7 separate regions of the Homo sapiens genome follow, and all the other regions are reported to be linked to region 1. Evidence: microRNA targets listed by miRTarBase, many of them from high-throughput screens and not tested one by one. Region 1 holds a microRNA gene; each other region holds the end of a gene's coding sequence.

Region 1 (3,083 bases):
ATATGCAGCAGAGGGAAGTGTTGGTCCCATTCAGGAGGGAAAATATCTCTTTAGCTATTTATTAGGAAACATTGAAGTAATCTTAAAAACTGTGCTATATAAAGAAAAGATATGAACCCCATCTATTCAATGGAAAAATCCAAATGCAGATAAAGGCTTATGAACAGAAATGAGTCATTATAGCACTGCTGATAATTGCCAAAAAATATGTAACAGCTGGGCGTGGTGGCTCACACTTGTAATCCTAGCACTTTGGGAGGCCAAGGCGGGCAGATCACCTGAGGTCGGGAATTCGAGACCAGCCTGACCAACATGGAGAAACCCTGTCTCTACTAAAACTACAAAATTAGCCAGGTGTGGTGGTGCATGCCTGTAATTCCAGCTACTCAGGAGGCTGAGGCAGGAGAATCCCTTGAACCCCGGAGGCAGAGGTTGCATTGAGCCGAGATTGCGCCATTGCACTCCAGCCTGGGCAACAAGAGCGAAACTTTGTCTTAAAAAAAAAAAAAAAAAAATATATATATATATATATATATATATATATATGAAACAAGCAACTGTATGATTATGAAATAGTATGTCTCACTGATTGTTATATAACTCAAAATTATTTTACGAGGAGATTGTAATCACGTGGGAAAATGCTAGCACTAGTGATAATGCTAGTGATTCAACTCCTGTTGAATCACTGCATTATTTTAAGATAGTGGTTCTCAAACTCCAGCATTCAAAGAGTGTAAGACAGAAAGCTGTATTGCTGGCCTAATTCTGTAAAGAAGAACACATTTATGAGCAAAAATGTGAAAGCAAATGTGCTAAAAGGTTTTTCTAGATAATGCTATGACTAGTGATTTTAATTTTCGTTTTTGTATTTTTAAAACTTCTACAACATATATGTGTTATTCCAAAAATCAAAAAGAAACATTAAAAAAATCCATGTAATCAATATCAAACACAAAACTTTAACTTTGCTCCCAGCAACAAATACATAAAATATTTAGGGGCATATTTTTATATCAAGGTGATTAAAGCACTGACCATGGGAATTTTATGACTATCCTATGGGAGGTTCAGCCATGGTGCTTAAGATACCCCTAGTGTCCTTCTCATCTCCTTTACACCAGCTCTGCTTGCAATCCTGCTGAGTCCTAAAATCCCCATGAGTAGGGGTGACTGTGAGCCATGGACGTGCTTAGCAAGACCAATTGGATTCCTTCACCTAGGAGTTTAAACTAGAGAACAGTGGGGAAGTGAGAAGATACACAAAGAGATGCCAGGTTCAAGGGGCAGCCACAGTAACTTTGACAGAATGCAGTGATCCCCAAAGAAGTGACTCTCTGGTGTCTACACTCCTGTGAATTCCCCTTTCATGCTGAGGCTGAGCATGGCCATAGGACTTCGTTTTGCCAGTGTGCCAATGCCTATCAAATATCTACCTGCCATGTTTGTCATAGGACAGGCAGATATGTGATAGGCATTGGCATATTGGGGTTGGCCCTCTTGGAAACCTGAAACCACCATGCCCTAAGAAGCCTGAGATGAACAACTTCATGGAGAGGGGCCCAGCCAGGCCAGGTTTATCTCAGTCGAACCCAGAGCAGACCTGTAGGAGAATCAACCAGCCAACACATTGCATCATGAGGACGGGAAAAATCATTGTCATTTTCAGCCACTAAGTTTTAGCAGTGTTTTGTTACCAGCAATGGATAACTGAGGCAGTCCCAATAGGAACTTTGGTTGAATCCCTGTATTATTTTAAGATAGTGGTTCTCAAACTCCAGCATTCAAAGAGCTGGGTCAAAATTCAAGTGTCTTTAGGGGAGAGACATTGTTGGCCTCATTTGCCTTTATATCCCAGTTCCTGGAATGGTGTTTATCACATACCTAGACCTGAAGAAATATTTGTAAATAAATGAACAAATGGATCTTGGGAGTTTGTTTAAAATATGCCCACCTCTGGAGATTTCTAATTTGGTAGGTCTAATTTGGTAGGGCGAGGTCCAGGAAACTGCATCTGAGTGATGCTGAGACAGGTGGCTTGCAGACCACATTTTTATCATCAGGGCCTCAAATTATCCTTGCAACCAAAAGAGGCAATTGACCAATCTTCCACCTGGCCGTGCATCAGAATTACCTGAGGAGCTTTTTAACGATATTCCTTCCAGATTCTCACCCCTGACCTACCAAATCTGAAAACCTCTGGAGGGGGAGACTCACACTCTACATTATTAAGAAGCTCCTGGGTGCAGCTGGTGCAGCTGGTCCACAGATTGGAGGGCATTTTTGCTGGCCTAACCAACACAAGTCTCCAAAAGCCATCTGGCAGCCAAACACACTTTTCTCACTCCTGAGAAGAACACACACCTACTCAGTTAAACATTATCACACTAATCTTTAAAGCTTTTTAAAAGACAGCTTTCATTTTTACGTCAAGAAATGTTTGTTAGGGACTCCTAAATCTCAGTGTCTCATCTGTCAAACAAAATTTGGTAACACCTGCTTCCTGAATGCCATGAAGACTACATGAGGTAAGGTGTGTGACCACACATTGAAACCGGAAACACCAAGCACAGGATTTTTAAGACTTTAATCATAAGTATGACATAAAGGAGATTAAAATTGTTTATCTATTTTTAGGTAATTATTCAGGGTTCTTTAGGAGGTACCTTGTTCCTCCTTAATCAGGGAGAGACAGGCCTTTGGGACCTCCTACACAAAATGTTTCAGAGAAGGGAAACCGTGGACACATTTCTTATTCCTGCACATGGTGTTTAAAGCACTGTGTGCTCTGAACCCTGCATTACCTTGTTCTTTCCTTCCCCTGGTCCTTTTCCCTCCCTCCTCCTGCCCCTAAGTGTCAGCCCTTCCAAAACACTAATGCAGTAGGCTGGTTCACATCTTTGACTAGCCCTGGCTCAAGCTGTGTATTATATCTGAAATGTTCTTAATTCATTAATTATTATTGAAACAGGGTCTCACTCTGTTGCCCAGACTGGGGTGCAGTGGCACAAACACGGCTCACTGCAGCCTCAACCTCCTGGGTCTAAGCAATTCTCCCACCTCAGACTCCTGAGTAGCTGGGA
Region 2 (3,083 bases), not on the chromosome of region 1:
TTAAATAGTTATTGGAGTGTTGATGTGAAGAGCTCCTTTGATAATGTATTTTCTTTGTAGAAATTTAAAAGCCTGTTGATTCAAGAACTTTCTAAAGTATTTCCGGAAGACATGGCTAAGTATCGAAGCATCCGGGGGGAGGATCACCCGCCTTCTTAACCAGCTCACCCTCCCTGTGTGAAGATCCCCTGGGACTGCGATGCGGCGTGAGGCTGGGACTGCGAGTGCTGACGCCACCTTCCTGCTGAGGTGGGACTGGGCCCTGGACACACCCCTCAGCCCCTCTGTCCTCATTGTTTGGCCTCATGGGACCGAGGGGCTGGAGGAGAGGCGGAGCTGTGCCCCAGCTGTTCCAGCAGCTTGTCTGGCGTCAACTGGCTTTCAGAGTGCTGACCCCTCATCACTGTGGGGATCATTCTCTCTGAGGGCAGATGAGGCGCAGGAAAATAGTCTTGGAAATGTTAAATATGATGGGTAAATTAAAAGTTTTACAACATTCTACCTAATATTTTTCTTTTAACATACTCTTTCTGTTCTATTGTATTATGGTGTCCGAAAGCTAAATAACGACTAGGAAAAATTTTTTTAAAAAAAGAAAAATCAGTTTAATGTGGGAAGTACTTAAGTGGTATTATATTTTACATTTTCAAGTATAGTGCATAAAGAATGTTTTAAATGTAACTGTTTTCATGGATTTCAATTAGACATGCCTATAATAAACTAAGTATGTGGCTTATTCCATGTAATTATTTTTGTAATATAATACAATGTGTCTTGTAAACAGTTAATTATTACTTTCCCAGAGGGTTGGTAATATTCATAAGAAAATTTGTTTTCCAGGCATTTAGGCAGGAAAAGCTAAAGCAAAATGCAGAACTCCAATTTTTTCTACAAACCTTTCCTAGCGGCTATAGTACACCAATTTATTGACACTCTGGAAAGACGCCCGGCAGGGCTGTTTCAGCTTCAGTGTGCTTACAGATCCTGAGGGGATTCTGTGAACCTGCAGGTTCGGATTCACACGTCCGTTGGGCCTTGCAAACTGCATTTTTCATGAACTGCAGGTGGTGCTGTTTCTGTGATCTGTGGGCCACCCTTGGAGTTGAGGCCCTAGTGCGGCCTGTGCGGAGGTTGACCTATAGACCCCTGTGTCCGAATGGCCTGGGCAGGCTTGTTATTAAGGTAGGGCCCCAGTTCAGACGTGTTGAGCCTCAGGCTTTAGGATGGGCCCTGGGAATCTGTGTTAATTTGCCTCCTACGAGCGATCCTGAACCAGCCTCGATCCTAGCCAGGGCTGCCGGAATAAAACACCACATTCTGGGTGGTTTGAACAACAAACATGTATTTTCCCACAGTTCTGGAGGCTGGAAGTACAAGCTCACGGTGCCTGCAGAGTGGGTTTCTCCCGAGGCCTCCCTGGCTTGCAGACCTGCTTACTTTGACCTCACGTGGTCGTTCCTCTGTGTGTGTCACAGCCCTGGTGTCTCTTCTGTGTGTCCTAACCTCTTTAGAATCTAAGAACAGCAGTTAGATGGTATTAGGACCCACCCGAAGGACCCATTTTTAACTTACTTCTTTGAAGAACCTGTCTCCAAATACAGTTGCATTCTCAGGTCCTGAGGTTAGGGCTTTGACACTGGAGTTTTGGAGGGATGCAACTCAGTCCAGAATACTCCCCAGGAGGGTCGTATTTACCAAGAGTCAGGGGCCAGGCCCCTTAGGAAGCTGGTCCCTCGCTAGCAGTTCTGTTCTCTCCAAAACAGCACCAGAAAAGGACTCCTACTGCTACCAAGGGGAAGAATTTCTGCTAGAGTAGAGGAGGCCCCTGCTGGCAGGTTCGGGTGCCTGAATCGCTGTTCCGCCTTGTTTTTCTGGCATCAGGATGCTGACTATTGGCTGCTGCACGAGGGCCATGTGGGCACGCGGCTCGCTGGGCTCTTCCCACACACTTCACCTGCATCAACTCACCTGGCCCTCACCAGCCCTGTGAGGTCCGGCTTTCTTTATATTACTGATGTTGAAGCTGGGGCACCAGGGCTTAACGTGCCCGAAGCCCTGCAGCTTCGCCTCCCTCTGTGCTGGTTCTGGGTGGGTCCAAAGTGTCCACAGTCCCCTCTTCCTGGGCTCTGAAACATGGAGGATGTGCCGGCAGTAGGGGCTGTTCTACATATCCTGGGACTGAGTTAATCGGGTGGCCTCAAGCTGTTTTAATCTTGATGTCTGAGCCTTGGGAAGAGAGGGTGACTGTCAGCTAGAGATGCGTATCTGGTAGCCCACAGCATGACAAGTCTGCTGACCTAGGCCCAGCAGGGGCGGTGTAGCTGTCACACATTATTCTGGAATATTCACCAGTCTTTTTTTGAGTAAAAGTTTGGGTATATGGATGCACTGCCTTGGAACTCCTAACTTTCATCAGTGTGTCTGATGACACCACCACAGTGGGTCCCCAGGCAATGAAGAGGTGTTGGAGCCCCTCGACACTGTGACAGGCCACATGCCCCTTAATTCCACCCCACCTGCCATTACTGTTAGTCACAAGTGCCCATCACTTTCAAATCTCCTGAAATGCTGAGGAATCTACTTAGCTCGGAATTGATGTCAGTGTGAGAGGACTGGAGGGTTCCAGGCCGCGTTTGACACTCGGCGAGGCATGCTGTGACTGTCACTGACACTGCCTTCCAGAGCTCTCCACCCGGAGGAGCTTGGGTTCAGGTGCACACACCTGGCTGGCCCTTCATCCCTTCTTCTCAAAGACCTCATTTTGGTTAAAAGAATGATTGCGAGAGTCATCCTGGGACGGTATCAGCCATTTCGATCAGCTGCTTCACATCACCCCTGCCCATTGCCACCCAGTTCGTTCCAATCCCTGCTTTGCTTCTGACCTCTTCTTCCCCACCCCTTTCTTCCTGCAGACACAGATCGGGCAAACAGCCCCAGGGCCTACTGATTTTTGTTATGCCCAAGGACACCGCTGAACCACCACGAGGCAGGTATGGACTCAAACAGGGCCTGAGCCTGTGTCACTGTTCTAGATAATCTGTGCTGCCTCTGTGGGTCAGAATGAAAAAGCGAAAATTAAGCCC
Region 3 (3,083 bases), not on the chromosome of region 1:
GGTATATGCATTCAGCTGCCCACTCCCTTTACATATCACAACATTTTTGGTGGCCTCAGCAGTTCTAGTAACTAAAATGTCAGAAAAGTGTGGTTCTGTGGGCTTCCTTATCACCCTTTTTAAAAACCTCAGATATATTAGCACCCAGAAGTAACTTATTTTAGATGAAATTTGTTTCTAAGGAAGCCACACCACTCAGTCTAATGTCTGGGTTCTGGGCCTTGAAACTCTGGCTGTGCCAGCTCTGGGGCAATCTTGCTTTACCATTTTTCATTTATGCTCATGCAGGGTATTCTCATGGGAAGACCTGGCAGACCTACAACATGTGAGGCAAGGCAAGAGACCCAAGGCCAGTAAGCTCTTTCCCTTCATTCTTGGTTCTAGTACAGAGGCTCATGTTCATGGAACACAGGTAGAATCAGCATGCCATTAACATTCCTCTGCAGTCCAGGAACTTCTGTATTTCATGTTTTTAGAGACAGGGTATTGCTCTGTTACTCAGGCTGAAGTAGAGTGGGGTGATCTTATCTCACTGCAGCCTCAACCTTCTGCACTCAAGTGATCCTCCCAGCTCAGCTTCCCAAGTAGCGAAGACTACAGGGACTTAACACCATGGCTGTCGGATTTTTTTTTTTTTTTTTTTTTTGGAGACAGAGTCTTGCTCTGTCACCCAGGCTGGAGAGTAGTGGCACAATCTTGGCTCACTGCAACCTCCGCTTCCTAGGCTCAAGCAATCCTTGTGCCTCAGCCTCCCCAGTAGCTGGGATTACAGGCATGCACCACCATGCCTGGCTCATTTTTTGTATTTTAGCAGAGACGGGGTTTCACCATGTTGCCCAGGCTGGTCTTGAACTCCTGAGGTCAGGCAATCCACCTGCTTTGGCCTCCCAGAGTGTTAGGATTACAGGCATGAGCCACTGCACCCAGCGGATTTTTTTCATTTTACTAGAGACAAAGTCTCACTATGTTGCCCAGCCTGGTCTTGAACTCTTGGACTCAAGTGATCCTCCTGTCTTCACCTCCCAAAGTGTTGAGATTACAGGTGTGAGCCACTGTGCCTGGCCCCTTCTGTACTTTTTAAAAGGCAAAACAAGTTCGAGAGATGTTTTCAATCCAATAGTCTCAACTAGCTAATTCTCCTGATTTCATTTTCGACAAAAATCTGTACAAACACACCATATGTAGCCAATGGTGGCAATGGGTGTTATCTTCAGGGAATCTTATCAGGAAAAGCCTAGATAAAAATCTCAAGATTTACCACACCCATGACATTTTTACTTAGGGTGGCCTTGAGATGCATCCTTAGAGGTATTTCATATGTATATGCACGGCACAGCAACATTAAAAAGACTTTAGAGGCTGCTTATAATACCCATATTCCATGTGGAGTTGAGATTTGGGCTGTGTCCATAAACATGGAAACATATATTAACAAGACAAACTAGTAAATCTCTGAAAAACAGTCTTCACACCTGGAGAGATCGAAGAGCTTTTTTTAGCCAGCTGTCAAATGGCACTGGTATCTTCAGCGGGGGTTTTAATAAATCCTGAAACTCAATATGGCTTTCTGATTTTAAATCTGTTGCTTCAATTTCTTAATGTTCTTCTGTGAACTTTGAGGAGGGTCATAGTACAGTGTACATTTTTAATCTCTTGAAAAGATATACTTTGTCAGATTCTTCATCTCAATATGCCTGTCTTTCAGCTTAGATGGTAGGTATAAATAGGGGTGAAAGAGCAATTAAGGCTACCAATGAGGGACAATTATTTCAGTGCCTTTGAAGTCAGGTATCTCATATAAACTTGTGTTTCAGGTGAATAAAAGTGCTGAGAAATCCTCTCCTGATTCTGAGTTTAGATCCTGGAGTAAAAATTTGAATCTAATTTTGTCCATGCTAGACTAAGAATATTACCTCAAGGTAATATAGAAGTCAGTGGTTTCAGTGTTTTACTCCTATGTGAATATGAAATATACTGCAGTTTAAAATAATCTGGCACACTGTTAGGCAATATTACTAACTCCTTACTACTTAGAAAAACTAAGTAGGCATTTTCCTTAGACTTTAGCATAAAATATATTTTCTATGTTTTTCATAAAACTGAATGTCCTTACTTTTAATTAACACAAAACTAAAACACATTTTAGTATTTTGCTGTTAACCATTTAATCAACAGCATAAACACTGCTTCAGTTTCTCACAGTCTCTTAATTTCAATATATATCTACATATCTATATCTATATATCTGTCTGTGTGTCTATATTTACGTTAACTATTAAGTTATTTTTATAACTTTGGTTTGGTGAGGTCCTGACCACCTAATAGTGACAGGAGGTAGAAGTAGGGGTAGGTCCTTACAAAATATGTTTAATTCTTGTTCACTTTTGCTAATGAGTCTGAAAACACTTCATTTTGACCACAAGTTTGGAAATGTCAATGACAGTAGAAATTTCTGACCATATCTTAAAACTACATAAAAATTACCAGTGACAAAGAAAAAAGGCTTATATTACATTTAATAGTGTTAATTTTGAAGACAATAGTGTTAATTTCAAACTTCCATAAAGGGTAACCCTACAGTTGAGGTGTTTGATGCAGAAACCAGTACAAATTTCGATTGTTAGGAAACCAAATGTTCTGAACATTATTTTCATTAGAAAAGGGAAGGTAATTTTATAGTTGTTTGAGGTGTTGTAATACATCTACTGATAGGCCCAGCTGTTTAACTAAACTGGCTGTCTGTTCCAAAATCCATGTGGGGCTTGGGTTTTCTGAATGTGCATGCTCCTGTGTTCTACAACATTCTACATATGAACAATCTATCCCACTATGGCTCTTGCTACAGTTTTTGTTAAACTCAGCATTATTTTCACAGAGTCTTTCATCTTTAGCTTCATCAATCTTTTTCTCAGCTGGAACTACATGACAAAGGTCCATATCCTCAATGGAGTCCAATAAATCTACAACATGGGACGGTGGAGTGATTGATTTCAGATGTTTGAGCACATACTCTTCACACTGGCCAACTGCATCCAGAAGATTGTTTATTTTATTGATCAAAGTTGAATTATTATTATGAAGGT
Region 4 (3,083 bases), not on the chromosome of region 1:
ATGTGAGAGAGCCATCACAACTTCCTCACACTTAAAGCAGTGTGTAGCAGTTCATACTGGAAAGAAATCCGAAAAGACTAAGAACTGTGGGAAATCCTTCACTAATTTTTCTCAACTTTCTGCACATGCAAAAACTCATAAAGGAGAGAAGTCCTTTGAATGTAAAGAATGTGGAAGATCCTTTAGAAATTCCTCATCCTTTAATGTTCACATTCAAATTCACACTGGAATAAAACCACACAAATGTACGGAATGTGGGAAAGCCTTCACTAGATCAACTCACCTTACTCAACATGTAAGAACTCACACTGGAATAAAACCCTATGAATGTAAGGAATGTGGCCAAGCCTTCACTCAGTACACGGGCCTTGCTATACACATACGAAATCACACTGGAGAGAAACCCTATCAGTGTAAGGAATGTGGGAAAGCCTTCAATAGATCTTCAACGCTTACTCAACATAGAAGAATTCACACAGGAGAGAAGCCTTATGAATGTGTTGAATGTGGGAAGACCTTCATTACTTCTTCCCATCGTAGTAAACATTTGAAAACTCACAGTGGAGAAAGGTAAATGCAAGATATGTGGGAAAGAATTTCTGTATTCCTCACCCCACCTGTGAACTCCTACCAGAGAGAAACCTTTTGTATGTAAAGAATTTGGGAAAGCATTTGCTCTTTCCTCATGCCTAAGTATGCATGAAAGAATTCACACTGGGGAGAAATACTATGAATGTAAGGATATGAGTGTTGTTACCATTTAGCCCATTGGTTGCCATCTTTAATTATTGGCAGTGCAAAGATCATCAGATTAGTCCTAAATGCCTTTTGGAGGTTGTAATGGCTCACAGATTGGCCTTAGATGCATCCCGAGGGTCTGAAATTAAACCTACAGGTTCTGAATACAACATCATGGTTACCTGAGTCTGGGCATCTGTGAAGAAGGGTCATGGATGGTGAGGTCAGTACTGCAGGCTGCCTCACCTTGGTGATTAGATTCCTAAGATCATAGCATTAACAAGTTCTGTACGAGATAAATCATGCAGATTGATCCCAGCCCCTGTTGGTTAGTGGCTGCCAGTGTGGCACATTCATGTCAAAATTTACCAGAAGCCAAGATGATGTAGGCCCCAGAGGTGGATTGTTAAAAAGATGCTCCTCCAAGGTTCTCTTCTGTTCCCATGGATCCTGCAGAGCATGTCAGGAGTGAAACCATCCATAACTGCCAGTGCCCTTTCACAGCTGATTATTTCTATGTCCCCTTCTTGTAAAATAAGAAGTGTGACAACCTTGACTGTTCTGTTCTGTCTTCTCTGTCCATTTTAGGTGGCACAATGTAAGTGGCAGTGTCTCTTATAGTATAATCCAGTCTCTCTTCTCACTTCTGTTAAGATGGCTGATATAGTCCATGAATCCCACTCATGATCTCTTTATCAAATGATTGTTCAGCCACACTTTGAGGATTCTCTTCAGTACAAGTTTTCTAATTTTTGCAGTATGGATAGGCTGAGAATTTTCCAAATCTCCAAGTTCTGGTTCCTTTTTCCTTAACAATTTCTTCTGCAATTCAGGTCTCCTTTTGCATTTTTGCCGAGACCAGCTGGGTCGTGGAGACCCTAACCCAGTGGCTCTAGAGGAATTAAGACAAAGACACAGAAATATAGTGCAGAGTGGGAATCGGGGCTCACAGCCTTCAGAGCTGAGCTTGAACAGAGTTTGACCCACATATTTATTGACAGTAAGCCTGTGATAAACATTATTCCTATAGATTGTAGATCAGCTATAAGTATTCCTTATGAGAAAGAAAGGGACAGGCTCTGGCTTGTTATCTGCAACAGGAATATGTCCTTAAGGCACAAATCACTCATGCTATTGTTTGTGGTTTAGGAATGCCTTGAGCAGTTTTCCAGTTTTCTGCCCTGGGTGGGCCAGGTGTTGCTTGCCCTCATTCTGGTAAACCAGCAGCCTCCAGCATGGGCGTCATAGCCATCACGAGCATGTCACAGTGCTGCAGAGATTTTGTTTATGGCCAGTTTCTCATTGCCTGTTTATGGCCAGATTTGGGGGGCCTGTTCCCAGCACATTTTCCTGTAAGCACTCAGGAATAATGAAGCTTCCTGTGTCCTTTAACACTTTAATTACAGATCTTAGTGATACATACCATTTTATCTGTCTCAAGCTCTACCTTCCGTAAAATGCTAGAATACAGTTCTGCCAAGTTCTTCACCACTTTATATCAAGGGTTGTCTTTTCTTCATTTCCCAATAGCATGTTCCTCATTCCCCAATGACACCTCACCAGAATAACCCTTACCAACCTTATTTCCAGCTTGCACATCAGAATTTTTCCAGCCTCTACTCATTTGTCAGTTTCAAAGCTGCTTCACATTTTTAGTTTTTTTGTTTGTTTTTAATTGCAGTACCTCACTTCTCAGTACCAATATCTGCCTTAGTCAGCTCAGACAACCATAAGAGAATACCGCAGACCAAATGGCTTAGAAATTAATTTAATTTTAAATCAATGAGGTTAAAAACACAGGATTTTTTTTTTTTTTTTTTTTTTTTTTTTGAGATGGAGTTTTGCTCTTGTTGCCCAGGCTGGAGTGCAATGGTATGATCTTGGCTCACCGCAACCTCCACCTCCTGAGTTCCAGTGATTCTCCTGCCTCACCCTCAGTAGCTGGGATTATTGGCATGCACCACAAACCTTAGCTAAGTTTGTATTTTTAGTAGAGACAGGGTTTCTCCATGTTGGTTAGGCTGATCTCCATGTTGGTCAGATCTGACCTTTGGTGATCCACCTGCCTTGGCCTCCCAAAGTGCTGGGATTACAGGCCTGAGCCACCGTATCTGGCCCAAAACACAAATTTATATTCTCACATATCTGGAGGCTGGAAGTCTGAGATCAGAGTGCCAGCATGGTCAACCTCTAGTGAGAGCTCTCTTCCTGGCATGTAAGTGCCCACTTCCTCATGTTTTCACACGATGGAGACCAACAAATAGGTCGGTCGGTCTCCCCCCTCCCCGCCCCCTTCTCTTTTCACATACAGTCACATTGAGGTTTGGAACTTCATATGAAATTTG
Region 5 (3,083 bases), not on the chromosome of region 1:
AAAGGGCTTCAGATACGCTGCTTCCTGACCCAGCACAGTAAGGATCATTTACGTGCCTTCACTTACAAGATCTTGCCCTGTCACTAAAAAGCTTCTAGATAGAGCTAGCTATATACAACTCTCTCAAAGAACAGCAGCTAAGAGCATTTGATAAATGCTTAGAAAAACTTAGCTTACATTTTCTTTTCAGCCAGCTGGAGCCTATTGGCTTTTGAAATTAACAGGAAGGAACAGGCACTGGAAGGAGCTTCATAAACCATCAACCCAGTCTTATCTCCATAGCAACATGGTTTTCTCACATCTGAATAAAAAAACAAAAAAGCTGCCAACTTGACAGTAAATATGGGACAGATCATATTCAACTAAAACTCCCAGTGTCTAGCTATCAGTCTTGAATCAGCTTTTGGGTCTGTAGCTAGAGACAGATCATCCGTTCTGAGTAGGGCTTAACTGGACAAACTAAAGCTTTGGAGGCCAAATTCCCTGTGGGCTTCAAATAGAAATATAGCCAGGTCACTAAAGAGGGAAAAGGGATAGAAAAAATATGAGTTAGGCCAGGTTCGGTGGCTCACACCTGTAATCCCAGCACTTTGGGAGGCCGAGGTGGGCAGATCACGAGGTCAGGAGATCGAGACCATCCTGGCTAACATGGTGAAACCGTCTCTACTAAAAGTACAAAAAAAATTAGCCTTGCGTGGTGGTGGGTGCCTGTAGTCCCAGCTACTCGGGAGGCTGAGGAAGGAGAATGGTGTGAACCTGGGAGGCGGAGCTTTCAGTGAGCCGAGATCGCGCCACTGTACTCCAGCCTGGGCGACAGTGAGACTCCGTCTCAAAAAAAAAAAAAAAAGAAAAAATATGAATTAAACCGGGTGTGGTGGCTCGTACCTGTAATCCCAACACCTTGGGAGGATTGCTTGAGCCCAGGAATTCAAGACCAGCCTGGGCAACACAGGGAGACTCCAGCTCTACAAAAAATTCAAAAGTTAGCTAGGCATGGTGGCATGTACTTATGGTCCCAGTTACTTTGGAGGCTGAGGTGGCAGGATCACTTGGGCCCAGGAGGTTGAAGTTGCAGTGGGCTATGATCACACCACTGCACTCCAGCCTGGGCAATAGGAGTCTCAAAAAAAATGAAAGTTAGAAAAAAGGAACATTTTCGGTCTGTTTATATAAATACAAACATAAAATTACCCCAGTTGCAGTCTCCTGTTTATTCCACAGTACCTCATCCTTTTTTGCAGACAGCAGGGAAAAAACTGGCACAATAGTCAAAATTGCCAGGTTTGGTGGCTCACGCCTGTAATCCCAGCACTTTGGGAGGCAGAAGTGGGCAGATTACCTGAGGTCAGGAGTTCGAGACTAGCCTGACCAATATGGTGAAACCCCATCTCTACTAAGAATACAAAATTAGCCGGGCATGGTGGCACATGCCTGTAATCCCAGCTACTTGGGAAGCTGAGGCAGGAGACTTGCTTGAACCCAGGAGGCAGAGGTTGCAGTGAGCTGAGATCACGCCATTGCACTCCAGCTTGGGCAACAAGAGCGAAACTCTGTCTTAAAAAAGTCAAAATCTTGCACCTCTACCCTGAAACCCTTCCAATCCTAAAGTAGCACAACTTTGCTAGGATTCTTAAAACCACACATTCTGAAGAAAAATAAACTTCCAAATATGTTACTGACCTAATTCTACTCTTACAATGGGAGTTATCACCCATCAATTCCAATCTATCGCCCTCTTCTGTGTAGCAGTCACCTAGCTGCTTAGAAATCCCAATGGCATCTTAGAGATCCATGGGAAAACATAGGCTAACTACAAGTCAGGACCCTTCTTGCAGTTTCCCAAGATGGGTGTGGGTTGTTCCAGCCTGTCTTATTTCCTTTCCACCTACAAGTCTGCCATATTTGCTTTTCTACGACTGCAGTCCTCTTAAAATTGATAGCAGGAAACCTCTGATAGCTACTTGTCCCCAGCTTTAATTGGGTCTTTTCAGGAAAAGGTATCAATTCACACTTGTTCCTGACCACAGCAAAGCACAGCACAGCAGGCTGATAAAGTCTTTGCAGGAATTTACATTATTAGAAGAGCATGAAAACTGCTGCTCAGAAACATTTACTTTCCCCTAAGGCCACCTTCTTTCTAGGCAGGGGAGGGGGCTAGACAAGGGTCCTGGAATCCATTTCATTATCCCAACTTTGTTTTGAGCTTATTTCCATTTTATAGCCATAGAAAGCTTCAAGTACTACTACATACACATCCATCACCACAACCTGAGGCCAAAGGCCCAGAACATTCTATAGCAATGTCTTAACAAATATCCTTAAACATTGATTTTTTTCAGATTAGGACTAAAGATTTAATTTAAATGTTTCTTTATCATGCACTGCATTTCTCAACATGCACAACAGTTGCAGGATGGGTGAGAGAATGTGACTAAAGAGTACTGAAATACCCCACAGAAACTTAACTTCTGTAAGGATGGACTCATCCCCACCAACCTGGGCATCTGATCAAGTGACCGTCTTCAACGCTGTTATTTGAACAAATTGTAATTCACACACATACACATCTGCATCAGATTTATTTTTTAAAGGAATGGATTTTGAGAGAAAACAACGTGGGCAGAAGTATGGAATAGAAAATAAATACAAATGTAGGCTATTCTGCTAATTGTTTTATAACCACGACAAACTAGTACAGAGAATGCCCTGTACAAAACACAACAAAGGTTCAAACATCGAGATGTTCCCTTAGCAAGGCTGAAAATTTCAGTCTCTGGTATTTGGAATTTAGGCTGCAGTCCTTGTTTTTGGATGGATCACTGGGTGTGTGGCACAGTCCATGCTTTTAACCAGATTTGAACAGAAGAATGGCCACTTGGCCCAGGTAGAAGTAGATGAAGTGTTTGGTTTCATGTGTCACATAACTACCGAAGTTCCTCCCCACGATGCAATGCCAGGTGGGATTGTACTTCTTGTCAAATTCCTGGAAAAGACAAAAGAAAAGAACTAGGATTTTAATTACCAGAGGTCAGTGTTTGCCTCTTGGATAAGCCAGAGCCTGTAGGGGCAGAAAGGAGGAACGT
Region 6 (3,083 bases), not on the chromosome of region 1:
GATTGAAAAGGCAAGATGTCTAGGAAATTTCAATAGGTGGCTGCTTTTAGCTACTACGGTTTTTTTTTTTAATTTGAAGGATGCATGCTTATATGTATTAATAATGTATTTTTGCAAAAATTAAAAAAAAAACCCTCTTCTTTTAATTAGGAGAGAGAAGCTCTTCAGAAACAGCTGGATGAAGCAAATCGAGAAGCACAAAAATATCGACAGCAGCTCCTAAAGAAAGAACAGGAAGCAGAGGCCTACAGACAGAAGTTGGAAGCTATGACTCGTCTTCAGACTAATAAAGAAGCTGTTTAATTGAAATGAACATGTAGTTTGATTTTACTTTTGGTCAAGAAAGAATACAATCTTGAACTGTACACAACAAAGGTACAGCCATGGGAATACAGAATGATAGAAGAGACTACAGATGGATAATTGGACTTAAGCCATGAGCTCTGAGTTCTTGTAACATAAAACTTTACTTTAGAAGTTGTGAAATGTATTTAAAACTGAATTCTGTAAATAGTTTTTTTTTTTTTACAGTTCCAAATGAGTTGATAAAGATTGTTGAAGAGATCCAAAACCAGAATAAGCCACTGTTTTTGTGAATTCTTTTTGATTTTAGTACAAACCTTAATTTCTCAGAAACGGAACAGTTTTAAGGGTGATCGTTGTTGGTTAGGCCAAATGTTGTGTAATAATTATGGTGGACTGATGCTGGAATTACTCCTGTAGGTATAAACCTCTGTATGAAGAGAAGATTTCTCCCAGGAAATCTTTGTACAGCTTTAAGTTGTGTCAGATTCTCTGAAAACATTTTTTAGAAAGCAAAATTTTTATATTTGTTCAATTTCAGCTATACCCAAGTAGATTTACATGTATATGAAGCAAATATTTTTAAAAATTTCTGTTTGTACATATTCTGCATGTTTTATAATTTCAAAATGCATCACTTACATAGGTATTTCTCCCACAGAAATGATGAAAGTGACCAGAAAAAAACAAAAACAAAACCCCTTTACTCTGTAGGTCATTGAAACGAAGTAAGCTGGCAGCTGGTTTTATTGGAATGACAGTGTTCTCGGAAGGAGCAGCCTACAAGATAACTTGAATTTGCCAATTCTGCAAAATCTGTGCTTTTTTGAAAATTTAAGAGTGGGGACGTGAAACTGTATTCTGTGCCTTCCATCATGATTTCCACATGAAAGCACTTTAAGGCACTGATTTTAAGATAATGTTTTTGGAAAACCCAATGCATATGGGTTTCTGAAATATTTTATGGACTTATTTCTCCCCAGGAAATGATTCTTACGGAAAAAAATTGCTTTTGTATGTAGAACAGGAACTTTTTGTATTACAGTGATGCAATAGACATGTCTAATGTAACTTCTACTTTTCCTTTTGAAAGCTCAGTGTCTGTGCTATGACTTGCTCTCATCACAATATTGTTGAATTCCACAATGTATGGACATTAAACACTGGCAGACTGTTCACTTTTTCTTTTTTTTTTTTGGTAAAATATTACTTCAAACCCCTTTTTCTTGCTTTATTTTTCAGTGTTTTATTGCTTTATGAACTGTTTAACCCTGAAATCCCTCTAGGTTATCTATACTGTATAAAAAAGCAATTACCCTTAAAACTGTACTCTGGCCTACTTTTCTATTTTGCAATTAAATATCTTTTTCACATATGTTCATTGTAGACTTATGTTTTTATCACATCTTATTAACACATTAAAAATGTTATCCTACTGCATATTTGAGCCACCATATGAAAATATTTTATACTCTCCACAACATGACTTTAAAATTCCTGAGGTAACTCTTGAGAATTTGTTAACTCTTTCACTGGAATTACCAGTATATTTGTTAATGTAATAAAGGGGTCTATGGTCTGTCAGCCTGATGGTTACTATTGGAAGCACTTAAAAAAGAGTTTAGGGCAAATTGAAGAACTCTGTAAGGAAGAGGAAAAAGATCTTTTTCAATTTTCCACTAAATTTGACATATTTTAAGTGATCCAAAAACTAGTTTTTAAAAATGCCAGGCCATATTTTCAATAGCATGAAGTGACTTTTTCTGCAGTCCTGAAAAGTCAATAGAGAATGTTGTTTCTGGTTACTTCGGTACATTAATTTGTCATGTTAGGCAGGGTGCTGGTACCACAGCCAGGTACCCTGACATGTGGTGCTGGAGCAGAGAAGGGCCAGTGTCTTCACCCCAGAGGGCAATCACTGTAGAGTTTTGCTTTCAGACCAGGCTGGCCCTGAAAAGACTCAAGACAGTGTTGGGAACAAGTTTGTGAAAGCTAACTTAATGTCGTCTTTGACTTCCAGTCTCCTCTCCTGCTGGAGACTTTACCTGGTGCAAGAAATAATTTTGATTCCTAATAACAACAGCTGGCATAGATGGGAGAAAATAATTGGTGCTTAAAAGGAGTAAGTCTATGATAGCATCAGGTACTCAGGTATCTGTGGAGGAAGCTCACCTTTTTCAGAGTCATTGTTACATAACATAATTTCTCAATCATTTACATCTGATTTACTGTTCTGTAAAATCACTACTTAGACAAGAATTTGTAATTAAAACTTAAAATGGGTGTCTTCTTCCCTTCACTTATTTCATGCTGTTTTCAGGTGGGCTGTAAAAGCTTTGCATTCTAGTCATTCTCAATAGTGCTCTGAACAGAGGATTTAAAGAACTGACAAAAATAAAAGTATATGAAATAAAAGTTTTCAGAAATCCACATAATTGTTTCCACTACATAGTGATGGATTTGTAGTTAGCAGTCATCTGGTTGCCACATCACTGGTTAATTGTTTCCACATATGTGTGAACAAACACCTGGAGCAACCTTTCTCAACCAGGGTTCTGCAAGACAAGCCATTTAGTGTTATGGTGTAATGAATTATTTTCTTTCCTGTGCACCTAGAATCGTTCTTGTTACGTACTATCCAGACACTGAGTTCGTTAGGCATCTTGACTGCCCAATTACTTTATTCAGATTTAACACTTCCCTCTGTATAGTCCCTGGACCTCTAGAATTATAAATTCTAGACTGAATCTGTGATGCTTTCAGAAAGCCTCATCTGAGAA
Region 7 (3,083 bases), not on the chromosome of region 1:
TTCTACATATCAGATGCATTCCATCAAAGGCTGCTGAGAAAACCTGGAAGGGGGCAGGCATAAAGGCAGCCATGTCAGTCCAGTCTTTCCTCCCTTGGATCTGCTGACAAGAGCAAGGCTGGTTGGCTGGGCTCTGGGTCTGATCTAAGGTGCCTCTTCTCATGTTTTATCCTCAGGCTGGGATCATTACAGAGGCAAAGCTGAAGGATCTGACACCCCCTATGCCTGTGATGTTCATCAAGGCCATTCCTGCAGATAAGCAGGACTGCCGCAGTGTCTATTCCTGTCCTGTGTACAAGACTAGTCAGCGGGGACCCACCTACGTGTGGACTTTCAACCTGAAGACTAAGGAAAACCCATCCAAGTGGGTTCTGGCTGGAGTAGCCTTGCTTCTCCAGATTTAGCATCCTGCAGAGCCACCGAGAAAATAAAAAAGCTGGGCTTGGAGGCTGCCTAGAGGGACAGGTGGGTGAAGGGTCACCACAGACACTTAGAACGGTAAGAAACCATGAGCACTCACAATTCTGTAGAATTCCTCTAGGGAACTTGGAGAGGTGTGCCTAAGGTGAGGCTGAGCTGAAGGAATGTGGGCCCAGGTTTCTTAATAAAATGATTTACTCTTCAACTGTGTCTGGCCCAGGATTTGAGAGCTGCTGAATCATAAATGATCATGTAGAGACCAAGAGAAACAAACCACAAGGGCCCTGACCTTGTTACACAACACTATCCTAGGTGCTCTTCTTCCAGGCTACCCCACGCAGTCCTTGGACCAGTGGTATTGGCATCACCCATGAACCAGAATCTCCATTTTAACAATCTCTCTGGAAAATCTGTATGCACATTATAGTTTGAGAAACACTATCCTGGAGCAGGGGTCACCAACATTTTTCCATAAAGAGCCAGTTAGTGAATACTTTTAGTGATTTACAGGCCACAATGCCTCTGTTTGAACTTTGCAACTTTGCCGTGGTAGACCAACAGTAACCATAAATGATGAGTAAATGAAGGGGTGTGATTGCATTCTAACAAATTTTATTTACAAAAACAAGCAATGGGCCATATTTTGCTGATCCCTGCTGTAGAGGATAAGGGATGTGTATACTGATATTTATCCTTCATTAATTCATGCATCCACTCAATACATTTTAATCTGACACCTACTATTTGTTGTGGATACAATGTGAACAAGCAAACAGGAAGTATCTCCATCATCCTTTCGATCATTTAAGAGGAAGCCAAGAAGAAATCTTTACTGTAAAGCCTTTTTTTTTTTTTTGAGATGGAGTCTCGCTCTGTCACCCAGGGTGGAGTGCACTGGGGCAATCTCTGCTCACTGCAACCTCTACCTCCTGGGTTCAAGCGATTCTCCTGCCTCAGCCTCCCAACTAGCTGGGATTACAGGCGCCTGCCAACATGCCTGGCTAATTTTTATATTTTTGGTAGAGACAGGGTTCCACCATGTTGGTCAGGCTGATCTTGAACTCCTGACCTCAGGTGATGTGCCTGCCTCAGCCTCCCAAAGTGCTGGGATTACAGGCGTGAGCCACCGCGCCTGGCCATTCTAAAGCTTTTTAATCTAAAAGTTTTCTAGATTTACCTCCGTGGAACAAATTTTCACTGGAAGTCCAATGGGTTTAACAGTTTTGATGAGTTTTAAAAAGCTCTATGAGGCAGCTTGTTTGGTAAGAAAAGTATGGGAGGACCCAGTATTCCTTCTGTGATTATTCCCTCCTAACCTTGCAGAAACTTAATTTTGTGATTACTGTTTTGAACAGTGGTTCTTAAACTTGAACAGGCATCAGAATCCCCTGGAGGGCTTGTTAAAACAAAGATTACTGGGACCCGCCCTTCAATATTTCTGATTCAGTAAGTTTAAACAAATTGCCAATGCTGCTGGTCTGGAGGCCAGTTTGAGAACTCGTGATTTAAAACCTCAAATCCCATCATCCTATAAATCTCTGCTATATAGAATATGGAATCTGATGCTAATTCCTCTATGATTTTCCTGCTTTCTTCCTTGCAGTTCCTGCACCCCCTAAGTGGGGCCTTCTCATCTTCATGATACAAGGGAGTTAATAAATTTTACTGCTGGAAGCCAGGACCTCCAGCTTGGGTGTTGTCCCTCCTCTCCCATCAACTAGTAATGCACTTGCAGTTTCCTGACTATAGGTTAATCTGTTTTCAGGGAGATAACTCTGTCCACATTAGCATCATCCTTCCTGAGCCTCACCCATAGTAGTATAATAACATCAGGCAGGCCGGGCACAGCGGCTCATGCCTGTAATCCCAGCAATTTGGGAGGCTGAGGCAGGCGGATGACAAGGTCAGGAGATCAAGACCATCCTGGCCAACATGGTGAAACCCCGTCTCTACTAATACAAAAATTAGCTGAGTTTGGTGGTGCGTGCCTGTAATCCCAGCTACTCGGGAGGCTGAGGCAGGAGAATTGCTTGAACCAGGGAGTCGGAGGTTGCAGTGAGCCGAAATCACGCCACTGCACCACTGCATTCCAGCCTGGCGACAAAGCAAGACTCTGTCTCACCAAAAAAAAAAAAAAAAAAAAAAAATCAGGCCTAAAGAAGGAGGTGGAAGATGGTGGGAGGTGGAAGATGGTGGGAGGGGGAAGTCTCACTGTCAGGCCTCTGAGCCCAAGCCAAGCCATCGCATCTCCTGTGACTTGCACCTATACGCCCAGATGGCCTGAAGTAACTGAAGAATCACAAAAGAAGTGAAAAGGCCCTGCCCCGCCTTAACTGATGACATTCCACCATTGTGATTTGTTCCTGCCCCAACTTAACTGAATGATTAACCCTGGGAATTTCCTTCTCCTGGCTCAGAAGCTCCCCCACTGAGCACCTTGTGACCCCCGCCCCTGCCCACCAGAGAACAACCCCCTTTGACTGTAATTTTCCATTACCTTCCCAAATCCTATAAAACGGCCCCACCCCTATCTCCCTTTGCTGACTCTCTTTTCGGACTCAGCCCACCTGCACCCAGGTGAAATAAACAACCATGTTGCTCACACAAAGCCTGTTTGGTGGTCTCTTCACACGGACGCACATGAAATTTGGTGCCGTGACTCG

The links. The annotated mature microRNA hsa-miR-3927-3p reads CAGGUAGAUAUUUGAUAGGCAU and lies in region 1 at 1,418-1,439, opposite strand. An mRNA with a match to its seed (bases 2 to 7 or 8) in the 3' UTR can be bound and repressed. Matches are read on the target gene's strand: a 7mer-m8 pairs with bases 2 to 8, a 7mer-A1 pairs with bases 2 to 7 and ends in A, and an 8mer does both.
Region 2: miRTarBase lists MED10 as a target of hsa-miR-3927-3p. Seed matches in the 3' UTR shown: 8mer at 498-505.
Region 3: miRTarBase lists YAE1 as a target of hsa-miR-3927-3p. The part of its 3' UTR that is shown has no 7-base or 8-base seed match.
Region 4: the mRNA of ZNF562 is a reported target of hsa-miR-3927-3p. Seed matches in the 3' UTR shown: 7mer-m8 at 2,181-2,187.
Region 5: the mRNA of DYNLL1 is a reported target of hsa-miR-3927-3p. The part of its 3' UTR that is shown has no 7-base or 8-base seed match.
Region 6: the mRNA of GABPB1 is a reported target of hsa-miR-3927-3p. The part of its 3' UTR that is shown has no 7-base or 8-base seed match.
Region 7: miRTarBase lists DNAH9 as a target of hsa-miR-3927-3p. The part of its 3' UTR that is shown has no 7-base or 8-base seed match.

Annotation. Positions count from the first base shown.
Region 1 is chr9:109,510,063-109,513,145 of GRCh38, forward strand. It overlaps MIR3927 (microRNA 3927), which reads right to left and starts at 1,483; the gene lies at 1,413-1,483. It also overlaps a transcript of PTPN3 not described here.
Region 2 is chr5:6,369,579-6,372,661 of GRCh38, reverse strand. MED10 (mediator complex subunit 10) reads left to right here. Exons shown (of 4, transcript NM_032286.3): 4 at 61-788. The coding sequence ends at 159. Among named protein-coding and RNA genes, the nearest start is that of MED10, 7.4 kb to the left of the region's middle.
Region 3 is chr7:39,572,297-39,575,379 of GRCh38, reverse strand. It overlaps YAE1 (YAE1 maturation factor of ABCE1), which reads right to left. Exons shown (of 3, transcript NM_020192.5): 3 at 2,499-3,083. The coding sequence ends at 2,674. Among named protein-coding and RNA genes, the nearest start is that of YAE1, 7.4 kb to the right of the region's middle. RefSeq lists a silencer at 423-623.
Region 4 is chr19:9,650,440-9,653,522 of GRCh38, reverse strand. It overlaps ZNF562 (zinc finger protein 562), which reads left to right. Exons shown (of 6, transcript NM_001130031.2): 6 at 1-3,083. The coding sequence ends at 574. Among named protein-coding and RNA genes, the nearest start is that of ZNF562, 23 kb to the left of the region's middle.
Region 5 is chr12:120,497,973-120,501,055 of GRCh38, reverse strand. DYNLL1 (dynein light chain LC8-type 1) reads right to left here. Exons shown (of 3, transcript NM_003746.3): 3 at 2,563-2,983. The coding sequence ends at 2,846. Among named protein-coding and RNA genes, the nearest start is that of DYNLL1, 3.4 kb to the right of the region's middle.
Region 6 is chr15:50,275,852-50,278,934 of GRCh38, reverse strand. It overlaps GABPB1 (GA binding protein transcription factor subunit beta 1), which reads left to right. Exons shown (of 9, transcript NM_016654.5): 9 at 151-3,083. The coding sequence ends at 303. Among named protein-coding and RNA genes, the nearest start is that of HDC, 12 kb to the right of the region's middle.
Region 7 is chr17:11,969,124-11,972,206 of GRCh38, forward strand. DNAH9 (dynein axonemal heavy chain 9) reads left to right here. Exons shown (of 69, transcript NM_001372.4): 69 at 177-625. The coding sequence ends at 404. Among named protein-coding and RNA genes, the nearest start is that of ZNF18, 27 kb to the right of the region's middle.